3 separate regions of the Homo sapiens genome follow, and all the other regions are linked to region 2. The links come from fine-mapping of genetic effects on gene expression. A gene starts in region 2. Each other region holds a variant in brackets. All regions are shown on one strand. Distances are between the middles of the regions. Region 1 has its middle 390 kb from the start of PRR16. Region 2 holds the start of PRR16 (proline rich 16). Region 3 has its middle 59 kb from the start of PRR16.

The links. PIP is the estimated chance that this variant, and not a neighbour inherited with it, causes the effect.
Region 1: its variant is the best candidate, but not a certain one, in a credible set for the expression of PRR16 in whole blood (INTERVAL, PIP 0.60).
Region 3: its variant is the best candidate, but not a certain one, in a credible set for the expression of PRR16 in monocytes after LPS (Quach 2016, PIP 0.84).

Annotation. Positions count from the first base shown.
Region 1 is chr5:120,068,528-120,072,771 of GRCh38, reverse strand. No RefSeq gene overlaps it. Among named protein-coding and RNA genes, the nearest start is that of PRR16, 390 kb to the left of the region's middle. The variant A/G (reference allele first, on the strand shown) is at 2,237.
Region 2 is chr5:120,462,484-120,466,727 of GRCh38, reverse strand. PRR16 (proline rich 16) reads right to left here and starts at 2,428. Exons shown (of 2, transcript NM_001300783.2): 1 at 2,083-2,428. The coding sequence starts at 2,241. RefSeq lists an enhancer at 1,553-2,054 and a silencer at 2,460-2,509.
Region 3 is chr5:120,403,571-120,407,814 of GRCh38, reverse strand. No RefSeq gene overlaps it. Among named protein-coding and RNA genes, the nearest start is that of PRR16, 59 kb to the left of the region's middle. The variant T/C (reference allele first, on the strand shown) is at 1,766.

The sequences.
Region 1 (4,244 bases), 390 kb after region 2:
ATATCAGAATTGTTGCTAATAAAGACCAGGTTGGAGAAAGCGACTTAGGTGTTACAGTAAAAAGGATTTCCTAAAGCCAAATTTCAGAAATAAAATTTCACTGGCCAAATTTTGAGAAGAGAAAAATTACACCAGAAATGCAATTTTGTAATAATGTGTCATGGACCGAGTGCAGTTGGCTGTCTGAATCTGTGGGTTCTACATTCATAGTTTCAACCAAGTACAGATTGAAAATATTTGGAAAAAAATTGCATCTGTACTGAATATGTACATACTTTTTTGTTGAATTATTCCCTCAACAATACAGCATTTACATTGTATTAGGTATTATAAGTATTCTGGAGAGTATTTAAAGTTTACAGGAGGATGTGCAAAGATTATTGGCAAATAGTATGCCATTTTATAACAAGGATTGAGAGTATTCATAAATTTAGGTATTCATGGGGTTCCTGGAAACACTCCCCCAGGGAAATTGAGGGATGACTGCACTAGTCTACAAATATAGTCAGATCTCTGCCTTTTTCATGAGAACATTTAATAAAAGGAAAAAAGAAAACATACAGAGTGGCCAAGAAATTCACAAGCAACAGAGACAGAAGCAGTGTGTTTTTATCCAAACTGCCATAATCTTGGGCAGCCCTGTGTGATAGTGATTGACACAAGTTTTCCACAAAGTAAGATTTAGGATGTTCTCTTTGGCACTGCTTATGGTCAAATATTTTAGCTCAGAAAAATTAAAGACAGATAGATGCCCATCTCACTCCCATGTCAGTCAGATCTTCCTGGAATTTGACATATTTTAATGAAACATAGAGTTTTACTTTTTGGAAAGAAAAATCAGTCATATTCAAGGTTTATTAAACAAGAGATAACTGTTTGCCTGTCTCTCAATTTCCTATGGCCCAAGGAGCTCAAAGGTCAAACTCCTGATTTGGATTAGAGGTTTCCCATATGGCAAGGCAATGTTTAATCCTCAATCAGGGCAGCTGTAAATAAAGCTTCTATCAGATTTTCTGAATTTTTTACTTAAAAAAACCATTATTTTCAAATTCACCTGATCTCCCCTTTACAGCATTTTTATGAATTTAGGCAAAAAGACTTGATACACAGTGTGAACAATTTCTATAACCCTGGCTCCAGACATCTGTAAATTACAATAATCACAGATGTGCAGCAACTGTTACACTAACAAAAAGTCCAGCATCTGGAGCTATAGTGTTTCTACTCTTCTCCCATGGACGTTTCAGCTCCTTGAACCCTGAGAACTCCTTTCTCTGGACATCACTTTTTGGGCTTTCTTTTTACAACTAATTTTTGAATTTTTTTTTTTTTTTGAGATGATGTCTCACTGTGTCACCCAGGCTGGAGTGCAGTGGCATGATCTCAGCTCACTGCAACCTCCACCTCTCAGGTTCAAGTGTTTCTCCTGCCTCAGACTTGAGTAGCTGGGATTACAGGCACACACCACAACACCCGCCTAATAGTTGTATTTTTAGTAGAGACAGCATTTCACTGTGTTGGACCAGGCTGGTCTCAAACTCCTGACCTCAGGTGATTGGCCTGAGGCCTCAGCCTCCCGAAGTCCCGGGATTACAGGCATGAACCACCATGCCCAGCCTAGCTTTTGAATTTTTAAGGTAATGGAATAAGTTTCCATTTTATTCCAATATACTCCATATCATCAAATTATATTTATTTATGCCCTGCCTAATTCCAAGTTGGCTTTTAGATAATAGACAACAAAGAGCACAGATATAGTAAGTCTAATAAAGTAAAATTTTAAAATAAGGACCAAGGACAGAAAGAACAATTAAATCACCTGGGCCAAACCATTTATTAATCATCTATCTAATAAATTATATTTATCTCTATGATTCTCAGCAAAAACAAAGAGAAATGGAGGGATAAGGGATTATGCTTATCAAATGCAGAATAAGTTCTGGCTCTAGGTAGTTGTTCTACTGTCTACTATTGAATTGAATAACTTAGATGATTAGAAGTCTACTTTTATTTTATCCTCTGACGGAGTCACCCTTATTATGATGTACTTTAATGGCAGGTTCTTGGTTTTCAAAGATAATTACGATAAGTACCTATGTGAAATATACTTTATTTTTGTAAGACATTCTTCCTTTTAATATACACTATACCCATAAGTTTAGTCAAATATGAATATAATAAATTTCTTTGAGATTTCAGTGCCATGAAAGTCTTTTTTTTAAATAAGGAATGGTAT[A/G]GGGGAATCAGTATGCATTCTTGATTTGGAAATCAAACGATTGGATGTAGATGGCATCCAATTATCTATATTCTATATTCATAGGCCATTGACAACATTTCATAGTGACACTCCTTTGCCACTGGATTATCCTGAAAACTTCTAAAAGAGGCTAACAGGCTTCAGTGTCCAAAGATTAGCCAACATCACTGAAGTTAAGAGTTTCATGGGAAAGAAAAGCATTTAGTGTTTTAAAAGAAAGCGTTGTACAGAGGGAGAGAATAGACAACTTCTAAAGGAATAAGATTCCAAGAAACAGCTAGTACAAATTGATGCTATTTTTCTTGAAATTTCTACTCAGAGAACACATATGCTGACTAGATTCTTCCCCAAATTCACCATTTTGCTATCCCTATTTTAAATTCAGCACCACCCGTGTATAGACAGACATAACTGTTCATAATTGTTTATATTTTCACAGAAATACAAAATATATTTTAATACTAAATTTATTAATTTCATTTGCATTAAAAAATAAAAACAAGTCTTAGTATAGCTCCTACATTTTTATGCCCCTCAGTTGAAAAACTTTGCCAGTAAAAAGGTTTGGTTTTGTTTTTTTAACTTTAAAGGACTTAAATACATTTTTAAATGAGTAGATTTTATGGATTTTGTAGTGAATTTTTACATTTTGTAAAACATGCATTTCTCAGAATGCTGAAAGTCAAGAACTAATAATCTTTACAACACTCACAGAAGGAGAACAAGTATATAAATATACAACTACTCATTCTATACCATATGAGAATTACTGTGTTAATTGTATACACTATATCTGAAACACAGACATGTTTTACTGAATAAAATTGCAAATATCAGTCACATAATTTCATGATGATTCTTATTTTATATCAAACCAACTGCATGTTTAATTTTTCTGTTGGGAAACATACATTTGACATTTAGAAATATCATACTGTTTTAATTTCTCAGGGTGTGTGTGTTCAAATTGGAATCTTTTAAATAAAGTAGAAATAAAGACTACTTAGGAGTATTTAATTGTCTTAAAATCCTCAAAATTAAATTATAAAACCCTTTTTTCTCAGTATTTTTTGTCCATATTTTCCTCCTCTTTTCATAACTGAGTTTCATGCCTCCACATCAACATTCTGGCACATGTCTAATTATAAGGAAGACTACAGTACCTTCTTTGCTTCATATTTAGAAACTATTTTTAGATGCTGGCTTTCACATGCATGTCTTTCTTTTTCTAAGTGGTTCTTTCACCCAAAATCAGACATAAAATTTCAAGCTAATGTTACCTAGCTAAAAATACAAGAGAATTAAGTACTTTATATTTACATCATATGAATTATCAGGAAACAAGTTACTGGTTGGAAAATAACCAGGATCCAAGTTAAGAAACCAGGAGATAAAACATTTCAGGGTTTCCAAGTATATGTTTTATTTGGATATACTGACAATTTTCTTTGAGGAATGGAAGTTAAGTTCTAGACCAAAATATACAAGTGAAATTTTGAAATTGAAAGTCTCTCACAACAAAAACAAATTTCATATTTCTGAATTCACAAATTCATTTCTGGATATTGGATGTTAATTGCTTCTCTCGTTTCGAAGTATTTTGCCTTATTGAAGGTTTAAATTATTCTCTAAAATGGCTAAGGAGTACTCCTGGTAGTGTTGCAGGGTCAGCAATCAATCAAAACAGATTATGTGCATAGGCACTAGCACAAGGGGAAGATAGAGTTTTCTGCATGAGACTAAACATATTTTTAACCCAATGAAATTTCTCCATAACACAAAAGGTAGATTCTTTTTTATTTTATAGCTGAATTTCTAAGTTATTACTTTGTATCTTCTAGTCCAATTTACAGTTCGTCTGAGTTGATCAATAACTTAAAGAAATAAAACTGGGGCAAGAAAATTGTCTAAATTTAGTCATTTCAATTTAATTTACTGAATACAATTTCCAATAGCAATTGAGTTCAATTGCATCACTATCAATGAA
Region 2 (4,244 bases):
TTATTCCTCTTATAAACAACCTTTTTTTTAACCTTAAAAAATCTTCAGTAATGAAGACACAGAAAGTGGTATCAACAGATTTCCTGACTTACATTTTTGTGATTCTAACCAATAACCACAGGGAGGTTGAAGATTTCACTACTTAATCTCTAAATGTCCATAAATAATGATGCAAAGCAAAACCAGGACCATGTGCAGTTTCTTGTCATTTATTCTGTGCAAAAAAAGTGAGTGGACTGACATTAAAACATAAGGAAGTATGGCTCACAGATGCAGAATTCTGTTTAACTACCTTTCTTTTAGTCTCAGCCTCATGAAAACAGTAAATACGTTTCTGTGCCGCTGTAGGTTTTCCACATCGCCCATAGAAACCTCACCAACTATTAAGCACAATTCTGCCGAAAGGAACATGCCCAATTTCATTTTTTAAAACGCCATGTTTCAGATGAAAACACAGTCTACCAAAGATGTCATATAAAAGAATAACAAAGAAAGGGACAGCATTTTTAGAATTGAATTTCAATGCATAACCCCACCATCTGTCAACCAGTTGTGAAGCAATAATCCTACAGAAACCCTGAAAACACGAACAAGTTTTATCCCTGAATCTATGTATACTAACAGCCACTCTCAGGACCTCAGTACTAATTATGTTCTGTCTGTGGAGTAACCTACAGGAACGACATTTACCACTGGCAAACTTAACCCTGGTGACGAATGGCCCATTTTAACAGACTTGCATTAGGTAACAAATGCAGAGTTCAGTTCATAGAGGTAACGGGGGAAGGGGAGGAAGACGAGGGGGCTCTTGAAATTTGGTTTGGAAATTGAATACAGGAGGTTAATCTCTAGAGGCCAGTCATCCAAACAACCCTCAGTCTCCTCCCCGTTGGCTTCAGAAACAGGATTACAATTTTGGACCTAGACTACGCCCCACCCCTTTTCCCGCTGCAGCCACCGCCACCTTCGAAGTTCTAGTCTTAGCTCTCACGCAGCGGAGCTGCGGACTCCCTCACCGAGAACCGCACCAGGACCCCATTCAGTAGTGAGCGGCGCGCTGGGACTCTGCTACCAGCTCCGCGACGCCGCCGGCAGCCAGCCTGGCTCGGGAGACCCCACCCCTCCCAGCCCGGCCCCCGCCCCCGCCCGGAGCCGCCGCCTGAGTTACGCAGCCTCAGCCCTGACACCTTCTCTGCTTCTTTCCATCTGGATCACCTGGGGCTAGGGGCGGGCGGGAGTAGGGCTGAACCGAAGTGGGATAGGAAAAGCGGGGAAGAACCGAAGCAGTCCCAGCTGCAGAGAGCCAGGACGCCAATGGCAAGACCCCGGCCACACATACACTCTCCTGCGCGTCCTGCTTCTCGGGTTCAATGCCAAGTGGCGACAGGGTGGAAGGAAGGAAGCAGAGGTAGGGTGGCGGGAAGGCCCAGAGTTACTGGTAACGACGTTCGGAGGAGAGCAGGGGATGCTTCAGAAACTGAGAAAGTGAGAAAGTCCCAGACCCCCTCCTTAGCCCCAAGGCTGCCAGCAGCCCGGGTCGCCTTCCCTACAGCGAGGCTCGAGAGACAGGGAGGGTAGTCTGAGCCAAGCTTCCTCCAGGCTGCCCTCCCTGATCTGGCCCAGGGCCCAGAACCCGGCCCCTCTTCAGCCCTGACTTGGGGAGGCTGACAGATAGGCAGCGGACTTGCCAAAGGACTCTGGGGAAGCAATAGGGCAGGAGAGGAGCATCTTGCACGCTCCAGCCGGGCTGCTCACGACTTCCTCTGCCGACACACCCCCAGCTAACCCTCTCCCCCGTCGTCACACACACAGATTCAGAGACACGCGTGCGTTCATCCCTCCCACCAGCCCAGGTCCATCGATTAAAACACTAGTTGATTTCTTCCTGATTAAAAAAAAAAATTAAAAAGTGCAACAACAACTCCTCTCAGGACTCCAGGAGCAAAGAAAGTCCGTCTGCAGGCGCCTTTTCTGTAGTTTCCCAGGAGTTTGGAAATCTGGCTGTCCCTGCTGAAAATCGGAAAGGGGACCCCGGAGGGGTCGAAGGGTGCCGAACTCCCTCCCCACCCCTGCGCCTCTCACCTCCTTAAGTTCCTTGGCCACGTCCTTCAGGTCGCCCAGGACTAATTCCAAATCCTCCACGATGATCTTGATCTGTTCCTTCACCTTGGTTTTGGAGGCTGCCGGCGGTCCCTCGGCTGGACAGGACGAGGAGGGGTTCCCCTTGGACTTGGCTGACATTCTTTGGGGGCAAGCGAGGCAGGTCAGGACAGGCGGGCGAGCGGAGGCTGCTGCGTGCCCCCGTCCCTGGCGCTGCTACGGCCGCTGCCGCCCCGGTCCCCCCACATCTTGGGCGCTCCCTGGGCAGCGGCGAGTGGCTGCGCTCCGCGCTCGGCCGGGCGGCCGCACAGTGGTGCTGCCATCAACTCCCGAGACGCGGCGCTCGGCTCGGGGCTGCAGACGGGCGAGCAGCGCGCCTGCGCCTCCTCCCGCCGCCGCCCGGCGCTCTCGCGCACACGCGCTCGCTCCCCGCCCGCGGAGAGGGGCGCCGTGCTGCCGCGCCAGGGTTGACGCTTGCAGTCCCCTCGACGTTGCCCTTCGAGATATCTCCCAGATGCCACCTTGGCATCAAGGTGGGGGAGACAAGTCCGTGTCCTGCCCGCCCCCTCCTCTTGGTTCTGAAATGTCCCCATCATCTCAGCCTGCTTGCTGTATGTCATCTCACAACTAGCCTGGATTCTTTCTGCTTCACTTGCTAGCAGGGACCTGGATCAATTCAGAAAGAACCACAGTGGGATCAGGAGTTGGAGACAGTCTGTAAAGTGGCCCTACAGATTTATCCAAACCCAAATGATGTCCAGAGGCCTTTAATCAATCTCTTGGTGACCTGCGAGTTAAGCAGACTTCTTAACTTCTGCAAGAAAAAAGGGGGGGGGGGGTGCACATAACAGCTAATGGTCATCTATTGAAACCATGAAATTCAACCAGTGTTCTTGAAAGAGGTACCCTAATCCTGCTAATTCCACAAAGCTAATACCGGATTTATTAATTTGAAGTCCCCACACCCCAAATCCTCTCTGATTGTCTCAGTCATCTTGGCTGTATGTCTTATTTGGCCCAACTCTTTTTTTTTTTTTTAACTGTCCTTCCTCTTTTTGTGACCTATGCTGATTTACATTTTGAGTGGAGTGGGGGAGACATCGTATTTGGACCTCGTGAAGGAGCTGAGTAAGAGATTGCCTCCAACTTCTCTTTCATCATTTTTTAAACCTCCATTTCAACTCTTTTGCTACTAAACAAATAGGAAACAACTTTCTGACTGTTCTGTCAAAAAGACCCAAGAAGGGAAGTTAATAGGAAGCCTTCGGTTCACTCTCAGTAGGTGTCTACAATTCTCATTAGCTAGAATTTTAACTTCCTTAGTTGTAAACCCATGGGCTATTAGCTACTGACCCAGCAGGCTGGCTCTACTTTATTTTCTTCACTGCACACTCCTCCAGATCATTCTTTTAATAGGCTTCCCCTTTTCGTCGTGCCTTAGCAAGGCTCTCTGTTTCTTGCTTCTCACACTCTGGGTAGCTCCACTGTGCTACACATAAAGAAAAGCTTGGCAGCTCTCCTCTTCCCAGTTCTGTAGGCTCTTAATCAATCACTCTCTTAATCCTGGACAATTCATCTTTACAAAACCTTTGGAAGTCATATGTGGAATATAGAGGAAGAAAGAGAACAGAAGAAAAAATTGAAATTTGAAAGTGGTGTCAAAAGAAAACCATTGAAAACTGCATTGAAAAATCAGGGGAAGAAATGAGAAAAGGTGAAAAGCAGATGCTGCTGGAAAGACTTAAGAAGAGATTATAAGAACAAGTCTGCAGCATGCAAACTGGAGAAAAGAAAAAGAGAAGAAATGATTAAAAGTGTGAAATAAGTAATATGCTTGAGTTCTCTGAGGTAGGGAGAATTAGATTTTTAAAACATCCTTTTTCTCCTCAAATTCTTTATTTTATAAAAAATATAACATTAAAATAATTATATCAGGTTTACAGACTCCCCAAAATTGTCAAAACTAGCAAAAGCTAATGGTAGGGGAAAAGAGAAAGTACTATTCTTCTAGATTGGAATTATTTTTGACTCTTAATAGTAGGCAAGTGTGTAAGAAAGCCGCCAAACTCAAAGTTAAGTGACTTTAGACAAGGATATGGGAGAGGAGGAAAGGAAATTGTGATTTCCCTCACAGTGACAAAATA
Region 3 (4,244 bases), 59 kb after region 2:
TCAACAGTCCCCCAAAGTCTTAATTCATTTCACCATTAACTCAAAAGTTCACAGTCCAATGTCTCATCTGAGACAAGGCAAGTCCCTTCTGCCTGCGAGCCTGTAAAATCAAAAGCAAGTTAGTTACTTCCTAGATACAATGAGGCTACAGGTAAGTAAAACCATTCCAAATGGGAGAAATTGGTCAAAACAAAGGGGCTACAGGCCCTATGAAAGTCCAAAATCTAGCAGAGCAGTCAAATCTTAAATCTCCAAAATGATCCCCTTGACTCTGTGTCTCACATCTGGGTCACACTTACGCAAGACATGGGCTCCCATGGTCTAGGGCAGCTCCCTGTGGCTTTGCAGTGTACAGCCTCCTTCCCGGCTGCTTGCATGGGTTGGTGTTGACTGTCTGTGGCTTTTCCAGGCATACAGTGCAAGCTGTCAGTGGATCTACCATTCTGGGGTCTGGAGGATGACAGCCCTCCTGTCACAGCTCCGCTAGGTGATGCTCCTGTAGGGATGATGTGAGGGGGCTCCAACCCCACATTTCCCATCTGCATTGCCCTAGCACAGGTTCTTCATGAGAGCCCCACCCCTGAAGCATGTGTCTGCCTGGACATTCAGGTATTTGCATACATCCTTTGAAATCTAGGCAGAGGTTTCTAAACCTCAATTATTGACTTCTGTGCATTTGTAGGCTCAACACCATGTAGAAGCTGCCAATGCTTAGGACTTGCACCCTCTGAAGCCACGACCTGAGCTTCATGTTGGCCTTTTCCAGCCACAGCTGGAGTGGCTAGGAGGCAGGGCACCAAGTCCCTAAGCTGCACACAGCACAGGGACCCAGGGCCTGGCCCACAAAACCATTTTTTCCTCCTGGGCATCTGGGCTTGTGATGGGAGGAGCTGCTGTGAAGACCTCTGACATGTCCCAGAGACATTTTCCCCATTGTCTTGGGGATTAACATGCGGCTCCTTGTTACTTATGCAAATTTTTGCAGCCAGCTTGAATTTCTCCTTAGAAAATGGGATTTTCTTTTCTATCACATTGTCAGGCTGCAAATTTTCTGAACTTTTATGTTTAGTTTACCTTTTAAAACTGAATGCCTTTAACAGCACATAAGTTACCTCTTTACTGCTTTGCTGCTTAGAAATTTCTTCCTGCAGATACCCTAAATCATCTCTCTCAAGTTGAAAGTTCCACAAATCTCTAGGGCAGGGGCAAAATGCCACCAGTCTCTCTGATAAAACATAACAAGAGTCATCATTGCTCCAGTTCCCAACAAGTTCCTCACCTCCATCTGAGACTATCTCAGCCTGGATTTAATTGTCCATATCATTATCAGCCTTTTGGTTAAAGCTATTCAACAAGTCTCTAAGAAGTTCCAAACTTTCCTGCATTTTCCTGTCATCTTCTGAACCCTCCAAACTGTTCCAACCTCTGCCTGTTACCCAGCTCCAAAGTGGCTTCTACATTTTCAGGTATCTTTTCAGTGGTGCCCCACTCTACTGGTACTCATTTACTGTATTAGTCCATTTTCATGCTGCTAATAAAGACATACCCAAGGCTGGGCAATTTACAAAGAAAAGAGGTTTATTGGATTTACAGTTTCACATGGCTGGGGAGGCCTCACAATCATGGCAGAATGTGAAAGGCACCTCTCATATGGCAGCAGATAAGATAAAAGAGAGCTTGTGTACAGAAACTGCCCCTTATAGAACTATCAGATCTCATGAGGCTTAGTCACTATCACAAGAATAGCACAGGAAAGACCTACCCC[T/C]ATGATTCAATTACCTCCCACTGAGTTCCTCTCACAACATGGGGGAATTCAAGATGAGATTTGGGTGGCTACACAGCCAAACCATATCAATTAGCAATAGTGGGTTCTTTTTTATGTAAATAAGAATAGAATGTTGATAAAAATTTGGAAAGGTTTTTCTTGAAATGAGTACAGTCTGGGAGAAACTTTGTCCTATCTCAGTGTTCATCCAGCTGCTGAGGATATGGTCAGTAATCAACAAAATAAACCACTTTACTGATATCAATTAGCCTTTCTTACACAACCATCTCAGATTTTGCTTGAGTTCATTAACGAAGTAGCTATTGCAGGAGGAATGAAGGTAATGCATAGATGCAAAAACATGAGCTGGCCTGACAGATACAGGGGTTAATGATACCTATCCAAGATATACTGATTAAATGTTTCTGAAGCCAAAAATGGGATTATATGAAACCTAAATAAGATAATGTATGCAAACTTTTATAGTCAGTGTGATTCACTGGCCCAATTAAAAAAAAACCCACACATTTATTATTAGAAACTGTGAGTACAAATCTGGACAGTAGTTGCATGACTCATCAAGATTTTCCAGAGCCTTAGTTTTCTCATATTGCTTTAGTTTCCTTTCAGAGTTGAGGGGATGTAAATGCAGATCTTGCTTGTGAAAGAGCTGAATTGTGAATTTCAATTATTTGCAAGGACTATGACTTCCATATTTGGATATACTCAGCATCTACCATGATATCTGACACATAGTGTTAATAAATAAATATTAATAAATAAAACTGGTCAAATTGCAAAGTTTTTGTACCATGAACATGTTAATTATTCATATTAATAAATTTAGCCTTTCAAAATACCTTAATAATATTCATTAATTTATTTATAAGGATCTGGATGTAGAAAAAAAAATTTTCTGTGTGTGTGTATAGTAACAAAATACCAATAGTTTTATTGAGGTAAAACATGATAAACTTGGAATCTGCTATGATTTGAATGTCCCCTCCAAAACTCATGTTGAAATTTAATTGCCAGTATGATGGTATTTGGAGGTGGGGTCTTTAAAAAGTGATTAAGTCATGAGGGCTTCACCCTCATGAATAGACTAATGTTACCACAAGAGTGGGTTGGTTATCATATGGCAGGGTAGTTATAAAAGTGAGGCCAGCCCCTGATGTTCTGCTCTCTTGCATATGCTTGCTCTCCCTTCTGCTCTTTTGCCACGGGATATTGCAGCATGAAAGCTCTCACCAGATATAAGCACCGTGCTTTTGGAATTCTCAGCCCCCAAAATGGTAAGAAATATACTTATTTTCTTTACAAATTATCCAGTCTATAGAATTCTGTTATAGCAACACAAGACAGACTAAGAGAGAAGCTATATGTCCAGGGCTATGGGTGGCACTGTAGTAACAGTGTATCCTGGCACTGTAATAACACAAAGAAATTCTGAATAAGCAATTGGGCAGGAAAAAATAGGTTTAGACTGTGGAAGGAAAGTTGACAGAGAGGTGAAAAACATGTGACAGGTGAAGAAGAAATTTATGGGAGGATTGAAGTGCCAAATGAGATATTTACTAAAATATTTTCCACACGGAATTTGTTATAAACGTTTTTTATCTCCTCTCCTAAATATGACTCCTCTCCCCGCTTTTTTTTTTACTTAAATCTACACACAGCCCACTAATGATGTGGTAGTGGACTTGAAGTCAGAAGGCTTCTCAATCTTTTTCAGAGATCATGAAATAAATACAAAAATTTTTAAAAAGTAAAGTCAGAGGGCTAAGATGAAAAGTCAAGTCCTGCTTCAAGGTTGGGAAATAAAAATTACAGACTGTTTAAGGAATGATACAAACTGGTTACACATTCAAACTGTTGTTTGCTAGTGGCCTCCATAGAACCTGCATTAGAAATGGTTGGCGATATCTAATTAATATAGCAATTAGAATAGTTTACATTTTCTTTCATTAAGCATACAACAAACTAACATACTTAGTATATTTATTTTTAAATATCTTCAATATTTACCATTATTTTGAGTATAATTTGTTCATTCAATCTTTCTTAAACATCTTTATTGAGAAATAATTCATATACCATGCAATTCACCAATTTAAAGTGTAAGCTTTAATGTTTTAAAATATTTTATAGGGTTGTGAAACCATTACCACAATCTAAATTTAGAAAATTTTCTTCCCACCTAAAATCAGCTCCATATCTATTGCCTCTCCACAGCATCCCTATCCCTCACAAATCTCTAATCGGATTTCCTCCACAGATTTGCCTATTCTGAACATTTAATAGTCAGTAATACTGTATGTGGCATTTGTCACTGGCTTCTGTAACTTAGTATAGTGTTTTCAAGAATCATCCAGGTGTAGCATGTATTAGTATTTCATTTATTTAACAAATAATATTCCAGTGTACCAATATACTACTTAGTACTTACCTATTCTTTAGTTGATATTTGCATTTTTTC